Regions from separate parts of the Homo sapiens genome. Here region 2 is linked to region 1. Evidence: fine-mapped expression QTL. A gene starts in region 1. The other region holds a variant in brackets. All regions are shown on one strand. Distances are from middle to middle.

The links. PIP is the estimated chance that this variant, and not a neighbour inherited with it, causes the effect.
Region 2: its variant is the best candidate, but not a certain one, in a credible set for the expression of HEBP2 in CD4 T cells (BLUEPRINT, PIP 0.71).

The regions. Positions count from the first base shown.
Region 1 is chr6:138,401,012-138,406,389 of GRCh38, forward strand. It overlaps HEBP2 (heme binding protein 2), which reads left to right and starts at 3,212. Exons shown (of 4, transcript NM_014320.3): 1 at 3,212-3,586; 2 at 4,134-4,269; 3 at 4,960-5,140. The coding sequence starts at 3,485. It also overlaps the pseudogene MARCKSL1P2. RefSeq lists enhancers at 1,906-2,426, 2,948-3,468 and silencers at 2,628-2,697, 2,828-3,677.
Region 2 is chr6:138,452,133-138,457,510 of GRCh38, forward strand. All of the region lies in intron 3 of NHSL1 (NHS like 1), which reads right to left. Among named protein-coding and RNA genes, the nearest start is that of MIR3145, 20 kb to the left of the region's middle. The variant TG/T (reference allele first, on the strand shown) is at 3,327.

The sequences.
Region 1 (5,378 bases):
TTTCAATACTGCCCTATTGGGGATTCAGTTTCAACATGAGTTTCTGAAGAGATGAACATTCAAACCATAGCATACACCCACTAGGATGATTATAATCCAAAAGCCAGATAAAAACACGTGTTGATGGGGATGTGGAGAAATAGAATGCTCACACCTTGTTAGTGAGAATGTGAAGTGGCGAAAAAACAGTCTGGCAGTTTCTCAGAAAGTTAAACATAGAGTTACCATTTGACCCAGAACTTCTACTCCTAGATGTTTACCCAAGAGACATGAAAACATACATGCACACAGAAACATGTACATAAACATGTAGAGCAGCTTTATTTATAATAGCCAAAAGTTGAAAATGGCCCAAATGTCCCTCATCTGATAAGTTGATAAAATGTTTATCCAATGGACTATTAATCAGCTATAAAAAGAAATGGAGTACCTGCCACAACACAGATGAACCTCGAAAACACTTTGCCAAGTTAAAGAAACCAGTCACAAAGGACCACGTACTATTATGAGTCCATTCATATGAAATGTTCCAAATAGACAAAACTATAGAGACAGAGAACAAATTAGTAGTTGTCTAGGCATAGGGAATGGGGAATTGGGAGGTGGTGGCTAAAGGTTATAGAGTTTCTTTAAGGGTGGGAAGTGATGAAAATGTTCTCACCTTGTGATGATGGTTGCCCAGTCCTTGTGATGATGGTTGCCCAGATCTAAAGATCCTAAAAACCATTGACTAGTACACTTTAAATGGGTGAACTATATGGTATATGAATTATATCTTAATAAATCTCTTGGAAAAAATAAAGAATACATCTAACAAAAAAAAATTTAAGGGATATTTATTCCTTTTCCAATTGTTATAATAAAACCAGGTGGAAGAGAATGGTTGTAGCAGTTAGAAAAAAAAAGAATACAAATCTGGGGTTTGGCCATTAAAAGTTATTCATAAAAATGAGAGAAGAAAAGGCAAGAAGAAGTTATTTCACATTACAGACCTCTCCCTGGCCCCAAAGCCTAACATGTGCTTACCGAGTCAAAAAAGAGACACAGTTGATTCACAAGCTGAAGGTTGGAACTTGAATAGAACCCTAGGCAGGGCAGTGCCCCCCTGCCCGGCCCAGGTGCCACTAGGCACAGCACCAGAGTAAAAACTCAACAGCGGGGAGGCCGGACCCTCGAGGTTTGGGAGTTTAAGCACCCAACTTCTGGCTCAGGGATTTGGGGAGTAGGGTAAACAAAACCTACTTGGAAAAGAATTGGGGAAGAAAACCAAAAATTGCCTTCTGCAGGGCTGGGGACAGGGAAGGAGGCAGGGCCAGGGAAAGGCACATTTCATATCACTAATCTAACTTGGGAGGCTGTGGGGGACCGTCTTCAACTGGCCTTACGAGGAAAGCCACATGGCCGATTGGAGAATCCACAGGAGGGAGAGAAGGAAAGGGAATGTAGCTGGTAGGATGCAATAGCCCCTTCCTTTCTGGGCACAGGAGGGCAGCCAGGGCACCAGGTCCAGGCAGTAACCTCACAAGAACAGCAGTTTTTGCAGCTTAGAGATCACCCACCTGGCCCACCCAGCTACTCATTCTGCTCAGCGTGGGCTGGTGTAGGGCCACTCTCCGCCCCGAGGGAGTGGACAGCTCTGTAGCTTGGGGCCCTGCCTCTTCTTCTGAGGCAGTACTGCCTCTGCGCCCTTGGCCTGGGGCTCCTGGCTCTCAGGGGTGGCAACAGCCTTCCCTTCCTGGGCAGCGCCCTTGTCGCTGCAGGCATTGATCTTCCCCCACTCCTGTTCTTCCTCCATAGGTGAGGAGGCAGAAGAGTCACCCCACCCTCCTTCCCATTTCTCTTGAAGGACAAGCTGCTCTTAGAAACCCTTCTTGAAAGATAATTATTTATTTATTTATTTATTTATTTATTTATTTATTTATTTATTTATTTTAGACAGGGTATCACTCTGTTACCCAAGCTAGAGTGCAGTGGCGCAATCTCGGCTCACTGCAGCTTCGACCTCCCCAGGCTCAAGCCGATCCTCCCACCTCAGCCTCCCGAGTAGCTGAGATCACAACCCCAGCACACTCAGCTTTTTTTTTTTTTTTTTTTTTTTTGGAAGGCAGCTATGCTCTCCACTCTACTATCAACGCTATTTTATTGTATTTTTGTAGAGACGGGTTTTCGCCATGTTGCCCAGTCTGGTCTCGAACTCCTGGGCTCAAGCGATCACCCCTGTCTTGGCCTCCCAAAATGAAGGGATTACAGGCGTGAGCCACCGTGCCTGGCCTTGAAAGGCAATTTCGTCTTCTTGGAAGTCTCCTTGCGAGGGAGGGAGCCTCCCCTTTGGCCTCAGCACCCTGGCTAGGGGGTGCTGGCTCCATGGCATTGCCAATGGTCCCGGCTGCCTCTTCTGTTCACAGGGGCCTACTCCCCTTCACCCTTGGGGGATGTCACCATTGCTTTTCACGTGGCCACCCTCCTGTCCGTTGGCTTTCGCGTGGGGAGTGCCTGCTGCCTCTGCGGCGGTCACGTCGCCCCGGAGAGCCTCGGAGCTCTGGCTGCCCACGATGGGAGTCCTCTGGGGGGCGCCGGAGCCGTGCCGGGTCCCCGCCGCAGGGGACAGTAACGCGGAGTCGGCCTGGCCGGCGGAAAGGGGGTGCTGGGGAACAGAGCCGCACCCCACTCGGCTCGGGAAAGCCCTGGTAACCAAAATTCTTGAAAAGCACTAGTGTCTGGCCTCGGCACTAACTCTCCCCGAGTCTCGTTAAGCCTGCGGGGATGACTCAGAGGGTCTGGGGTCCTGTCGGGGAAAAGTTCAGAAACCAGAACAGTTCCAGATTCTCTCCATGTGTCTGTGGTCCCACCACCTCCTCCGCAAGGGACCCTGAAAGCTGTCTGGGACCTAGGACAACTTCTTGGGATGAGTACGGCCATTCGCCCTGGCTGAGCCCCAGGAGTGCGGGCAGGGGCCGCGGGGGTCGGGTCGCCAGCCGCCACCTCCTGCCTTTCTCTGCCTGCGGTGCGCTGGGACACCCTCGAGGCGGCTCAGCGCCCGCGGTTCCCAGCGCGGGCGGGGCCGCGGCAGAGGTTCCCAAACCGGTTGCACAGAAACAGCGCCACCCCCTACTGCCCGCGGGGCCACCTGTGTGTGCCTTTCCTTCAAAAACAAAGGCGGGGCGGGGGCGGAAGTGCCTCAAAAGAAGGCGGGCCGAAGCGAGGTGCGGCTCCCTGTCGCCGCGGAGGGGCGGGGGCAGGACGCGCAACTCCGGCCGGAGCTGTCCGGGGTCGTGAGCCGGCCCCGCCTTGGTGGCGGCGCCCCCTCGCGGTCCAGAGGCAGACGCATCGGGTGGGCTCGGGTCTCCAGCCCGGCCGGGAGGAGGGACCGGGTCTGCGGAGCGGGGACTCGGGGCCTCGGCGGGGCGCGCACACGCAGGCGGGGCGGCCCGGGGTGCGGGGCCTCTGCGCGGCTGACCAGGCTCCCAGAGCGTCAGCGCCGCCCATGGCCGAGCCGCTCCAGCCAGACCCCGGGGCGGCCGAGGACGCGGCGGCCCAAGCTGTGGAGACGCCGGGCTGGAAGGCCCCGGAGGACGCCGGCCCCCAGGTAGGCGCCGACTCGGGAGCGGAGGGGCTGGGCCCGCCTTCCGGCTGATTTGCAGTGAGGCCAGCGGGTCCCATAGAGTTAAGTAAAAAGTACAGTTTTTTAAATGGTCCCAGTCCCTACCCACTATGCTACGCAAACGAGAAACCCCGGTCATTTAGCTCTACCCTCCCCGCTACCCCCAGTGCAGGTCCCATCTCAATTTCTTGTCTTTGCGGGGTGGTGGGGCGGGGAGGAACTGGTTACGTCCCAGAACGCGCGGTGGAACCCTCCGAACCGAGGGGGTGTAATAGATGCTTGTCTGAAAGTGTGAATCGAGTCCCCAGCGTGTGGGGTTGGGGCCGCTGCGGTCCCTAATCGCAAGGAGGGGAACCTCGTGGAGGGGAACCTCCCAGACCTAAGGAGCGGGGACCTCAGGCCGGACCCCGGGGCGGTGCAGCCCCTAGACAGGACGGCTCCAGGTCGACCCGAGATCATGGCACCGGTATTTTTGCATCTCACTCCTACCCTCTTAGAATTGCTTCTCGAAGTTTTCTCTGTTCCACTTTAGCCCGGAAGTTATGAGATCCGACACTATGGACCAGCCAAGTGGGTCAGCACGTCCGTGGAGTCTATGGACTGGGATTCAGCCATCCAGACGGGCTTTACGAAACTGAACAGCTACATTCAAGGCAAAAACGAGAAAGGTAAAAGCAGTTTTCCTTGTAATTATGCATATTGTGAAAGAGTCCCCGGGCTTATTATTGAGTTTTAGCTTATTAAAGAAATATCCTTTATAATGGAAAAATAAGCAAGTCATCAAAGACTTGTCTTGTTTTCAGACAAGACTCCTCAGGACCAGGGTTACACTGGGTATTACTTTTCAACCTCTGTTCTCTGATTTTGCTGGATGAACTGGGGTTTGGTGTAACTCGTGATAAGTCCTTTTCTATGGCTAACACCTCAAGATAATTTGGTGACTGGTAGGATCAGAGACGTCAGGAGGCAAGAAGGTACCAAGATTAGAAGCATCAAGTCATAGCTTTTGGTCTGGCTTTGCTGCTATTTATATTTTAGCAGGTCTCTTAGCCTGTGGGACCTCATTTTCTGAATGGTAAGAAAAAATAATTTACTGACCATGTAATCTCTAATTTCCCCTTTTATCTCTAAAAATTAAGAATTTATTAACCCAGAATATCAGTATTACAGAAAGTGGTTTAATGTGGGCAGTGAGCAATTGAGTAATTTTGGCCTTACTGTTTTAAGATGAAAATTATCTTAAAGGTAAATATGTCAACAATGTGAAGTAAATCAAGGAACCCAGATCAAAAAAGAATAGGTTAAATGTTTAAAGCTGTCAAAAATACACTAAATTTGCTTTCATTTTTATGTCACAGAGATGAAAATAAAGATGACAGCTCCAGTGACAAGCTACGTGGAGCCTGGTTCAGGTCCTTTTAGTGAGTCTACCATTACCATTTCCCTGTATATTCCCTCTGAACAGCAATTTGATCCACCCAGGCCTTTAGAGTCAGATGTCTTCATTGAAGATAGAGCCGAAATGACTGTGTTTGTACGGTAAGTGGTAGATAATTTATAGCCTTGCTGACTGCTAGTTTTACTTGCGTGCACTCACAGTTTAGCTCCAATGCAATTTCAAAAGGCTTTTTCACCCTTCCATAAAATCAGGTCTAATGCATTTTGTGATGTTTTCCTACTGGCTTTGTTGTATATGTTACTGAGGTCTGTCACAAGATAATAATCACTTCATTTAATGAGTCTATTGCATGCCCTTCATATAAGACACGGTGCAAAT
Region 2 (5,378 bases), 51 kb after region 1:
CCTGGTCCTGGGAGGAATGGAGAGTCACAAATGAAACATAAGCCATGATTCCTTGTGTCAAATTGTTTCATTTAGAAAGGGAGAGAAACAGGCAACACTGACAGTTACTTTGTAAATTTTGGATGCTGGAAGACCTGCATTTTAGAGACTTCTAGGTTCTACCCGGAAATCAGACAAGCTCTCACCAGATGGACAGTGTGGGGCCTGAAATAGGGTCTCTTTCCCATATATTCTCATACGAAATATGCTCTCTTTCTCAGAAGAGCCAACTGATCCAAAAGTGGGATTAACTAAGAAACACAGATTAATTCAGTCTTTTTTGTTTTGATTTGTTAGTAAAAGTTAGAAAACTGAATTATAGCCAGAGCTAAACTTAGTATTCATTTAGAATTATTACATGAAAATAGAGAACAGATGAAACTATATAGAACATATCAACTATACAGAACTATATAGTTGATGTCTTTAAGAAGACAGCCACATACATTCCAGTCCTTTTTGGAAGACACTTAGTCTTTGATGCTCTTCCTCCCAGAATTAAACCTCTTGTGTTGACTCTTGGTTTTCAAGATCCTTAATAGTTTCATAGGGTGCCAAAACGTCTGCAGCCTTTTGGCTATATGTTTCTTCTGTCTTTAGTAGATTTAGACACAAGAGACCCTCACTGATTTCTGTTCTCTGTGCATTCTTTTTTTTTTCTCCTGGCGCCAACAACAACAGAAAAAGTGGGGGTAGTGGAAATGAATCCATGTAGAAGCACAGTTCATGGTTCATCCAGCAACTCCATGATGGCCAACAGGTGACTTCCACATCCATATTATTAAGTAACTTTAATTGTTCATTCTTTTTTTCTTTTGAGACGGAGTCTCACTCTGTCGCCCAGGCTAGAGTGCAGTGTAGTGGCGCAATCTTGGCTCACTGCATCTCCGCCTCCCAGGTTCAAGCAATTCTCCTGCCTCAGCCTCCCAAGTAGCTGGGATTACAGGCACGTGCCACCATGCCTGGCTAATTTTTGTATTTTTAGTAGAGATGGGGTTTCACCACATTGGCCAGGCTGGTCTCAAACTCTTGACCTCAGGTAATCCGCCCGCCTCAGCCTCCAAAGTGTTGGGATTACAAGCGTGAGCCACCATGCCCAGCCTAATTGTTCATTCTTTCATATGTATTATATTAGTCCCTTTACCTCAAATCTAATTGCTTTATCAAGAGCTTTAAACTTTCTTTTGTTGTTGTTGTTTTTGAGATGAGGTCTTGCCCTCTTGCCCAGGCTAGAGTGCAGCACAGTGATTACAGCTCATGGCAGCCTCAGATTCCTGGGCTCAAGCAATCCTCCTGCCTCAGTTTCCCAAGTAGCTGGGAGTATGGATGTGCATCAGCGTCCCTGGCTAATTTATTTATTTTTCATTTATTTTTATTGTATTATTATTTTTTTGAGACAGGGTCTCACTCTGTTACCCAGGCTAGAGTGCAGTGGCAGAATCACAACTCACTGCAGACTCAAACTCCTGGGTTCAAGCGATCCTCCCACCTCAGCCTCCCGAGTAACTAGGATGACCGGCACAAGCCACCATGCCCAGCTAATTTTTGAAAACTTTCTGTAGAGACAGGGTCCTGCACATTGCCCAGGCTGGTCTTGAACTCCTAGGCTCAAGCCATCCTCCTGCCTCAGCTGCCAAAGTGCTGGAATTACAGGCTTGAGCCACTGCACCAGGCCCTAAGAGCTCTAAACTTTCTTATCACACAGTGAATTAAAATATTTTGGATCTTAACTATCCCATATTAAGCGATCCTTTCCTCAAATGAAAGAAAATACTTAATTAGAACATATATGTTTAAACTGATACAGTAAGTTGTTTGTAATCATATTTTAGAATAACAAATTATGTATTAAAATCATATAACATAATGAATATTCAAGAACTCACTACTCAACCCATGACCTAAAATATTACTAAAAACCTGCATCTCCCTCCATGCCCCATCCCATCTCCCTACTTCCCCAGAGGTGACCACTAGCCTGAATTTTGTGTTCCTAATTACTCCTTGTTATATGTGTGCGTGTGTGTGTGTGCGTGCGTGCATAAACTTGCTTTGACTTTTACAAAAATAGTATTATTCTCTTTGTGTTTTTCTTACTATTATCTTTCTAAGACACATCCATGTAGTTGTGTGAAACTGTAATTCATTCATTTCACTGGGGTATACATTCCACTCCAGTACTAATTTATTCACATTTTTTATTGATGGACAATTGGGTTGTAAAAGATGCTCTTTGTATTATCTCAACAATGCAAAACTCCCCATAAGAGAATGAGAATGGTTAGGAGGAAAGGACTGTGGCAAAGGCTCTACTCCCCATACAGTCATTACTGGGGGAAAAACATGAGCTCTAGAGTCGTAAGTCTAGGTTTAAATCCTGGTTTTGCTTTTAGGGGTGATAGATGTGTTCACTCTCTTGATTATGGTAATGGTCTCCTGTGTGTATACATATGTCAAAATTTATTAAGTTGTATACTTTAAATATGTATAGATTATTTTATGTAAGTTATACTTCAATAAAAGGCGTTTTAATAAAGAAAGATCTTGTTTCAGTATTTAAAAACTATGTGATCTTAGGCAAGTGATCTAATCTCTCCAAGATACAGTTTTCTCATCCATGATATGGGCATAATCAAAGCTACTTTGCATGGTTGCAATAAATACTGAATATATTCACATACAGCACTGAGCACAGTCCCTGGCGCCTGAGCCTTTCCATGTGCCAAGTGCTTGGCATCATACTGGAAACACAGAGATCAACAAGATAGGGATGCTGTCCATTAATCTAGAAGAGAAGGCAGGTATAAACAGACCCTGATTATAGAGTAGTGGGATGGAAACAGCAAGAGAAACTGGAATGGGTCATTGGAGACATTCTCACTGGTTTGCAGGCAAAAAGGCGTGGGAATGACAGACCCCAATTTTCTCATTTTTGTCTGCAATGGCATGGAATAAGAAGGTGCCATAACTGCAGAGCAGTGAGCATTGACTCATTTGTGTTTCTACAGTTTCCTGAAATTACTCACAGAGACCCAGTAACACATGATTGGACATGGAGTAATCACTTCTCGACTGTAAGCTGCCCTAGGCCAAGAATGGGATCCATATACTGAGACCAAGTAGCACTTAAAAACTTTTTTGGGGGAAAAAAAAATTGAGTGAAGCATACCAGACAAGTCAAAGAGGAATAAGAGATGACAAAATTGGGCATAATGAGGAGGAATTGAGGTAACTGAGTAATCTTGCCCTTTTGCTTAACCAGCATGGTGCGATGAAAAGAAATGAGC[TG/T]CAAGGAGCCCCGCCTTCACATGCTCCCTGCAAGGAGCCCCGCCTTCACATGCTCCCTGCAAGGAGCCCCGCCTTCACATGCTCCCTGCAAGGAGCCCCGCCTTCGCATGCTTCCTGGTGCTTTCGAGCTATGTGATCTTGAGAAAGCCATTTCATATTTCTGAGTCTCCATTTCCAGATTAAAATAATAGTAATAGCTATTAAAATAATCTGTTTCATGGGGCTGTTTGTGGAAAATAAGATCTAATTTGTGAAAAAGTTCTATATCCTAACGTGTACCCCGATGAACAAGCTAGCAATAGCATAAACACTGGTAGTGCCACACCTAGATAACCTGTAAAGCCATGACAATCAGAAATTCGTCAGTAGCTGCTGAAACCTCTCAAATTTATTGCCTTGGGCAGGAAATTCTATGTGGGTGGAACAAAAGACGAGATGATTGGGAGAGTGGCCAAATTTTTATAAAAACAGACATTGTCTATTGAATCATTTTCTTTGAAGCGTGGTTTGAAATACCAATCAGCTTAACAATACTTATCATCATCATCTGAGCATCTAGTCTGTGCCAGGCACTGTGCTAAGGGTTTCACAAACATTAATTTACTTCAACCTCACACCAACTCTCCAAGGTAGGTTAGGGTAACTATGTAATTTTATCGAAACCAGAACACCTCTGAGAGTGAAAGGGGGTGCAATTAATAATTACACAGAATAACAGCTGTAAACCAGGGCTGTTCTAAGCAAACCGGAACATGTGGTTTTTATCTCTTTACAGTTGAGGAACCTGAACCTCACAGACGAAAGCAACTTATCCAAGGCCACTGAGCTCTGACAGGTGGAAAAGCTGCCCCAAACCTACGCTCTCAAGCATCATGTTAAATAAGCCTCCTGTGTTTACAGGTATGGCAGCAAGGTTACTGCCTTTTCTTCAAAGTCTTCCTTTGATTTAAATATTTCTTATCAACAAAGCCTAAAACAGAAGCTGACATGCCAGTTCAAAGAATAACAGGAAACAGGGAAATTTCGATTTCTGTCACGACTATTAAAGCCAACTGTTTACTGCCAAAAATCTAGATCTAATACATCTCTTTAGGGGTGAATTTTACACAAGAGATTGCATAACTCATGATTGATATCCTTTCTGCTAAGACAATGGGGATTCTGTGAAGGTTTCCCAGATTCAGTGAACGTATCATCAAATATAACTTCCGATAATGGCAGGTGGAAAAATTCCCTATCGACTCACAGTAAGTATTTTCGCACTGATAACTGACCTGCCTTCAAATGCAAGAACCTCTTTGGCAGTACTTGGCATATGCTGAAAACTGAAAAGAGAAAAAAGTCAAAAACAGTACACAAAGCAATGGTGTACTCTTTGATTTCAGAGTTGAATGAAAAGGTATTTTCTGGAATTTCTTTCTTTCTTTTTTTTTTTTTGGAGATGGAGTCTCACTTACTCTGCCGCCCAGGCTGGAGTGGAGTGGTGCGATCTCAGCTCACTGCAACCTCCACCTCCCAGATTCAAGCAATTCTCCTGCCTCAGCCTGAGTAGCTGGGACTACAGGTGCATGCCACCACGCCTGGCTAATTTTTATATTTTCAGTAGAGACAGGGTTTCACCATGTTGGCCAGGCTAGTCTGGAACTCCTGACTTCAAGGGATCCGCCTGCCTCAGCCTCCCAAAGTGCTGGGATTACAGGCACACACTACCATGCCTGGCTTATTTTCTGGAATTTCTAAATTGCTTTGCCAACAGTATTTTTTTCAATGCATCATGTTTATGTTTAGATGATATGCATAACATATACAATTGGAAATATTTTCAACAATTTTCTTCTTGCTACACTATATTCCCACTTTGAACATCAAAGATATGTGTGGATCTCGTTAGCAAAACATCTTTCTTCATAACATAACACATAGAGTCCTACTTGGTGTTTCACATTAGGATAATGAAGATAATTATTCTAGAACAATTAGCCAGAGTAAATAACCAGAATCGACGTCCTCTAGGTTCTCTTTTCTAATTTATATGTCCTTAACCTTTGCCA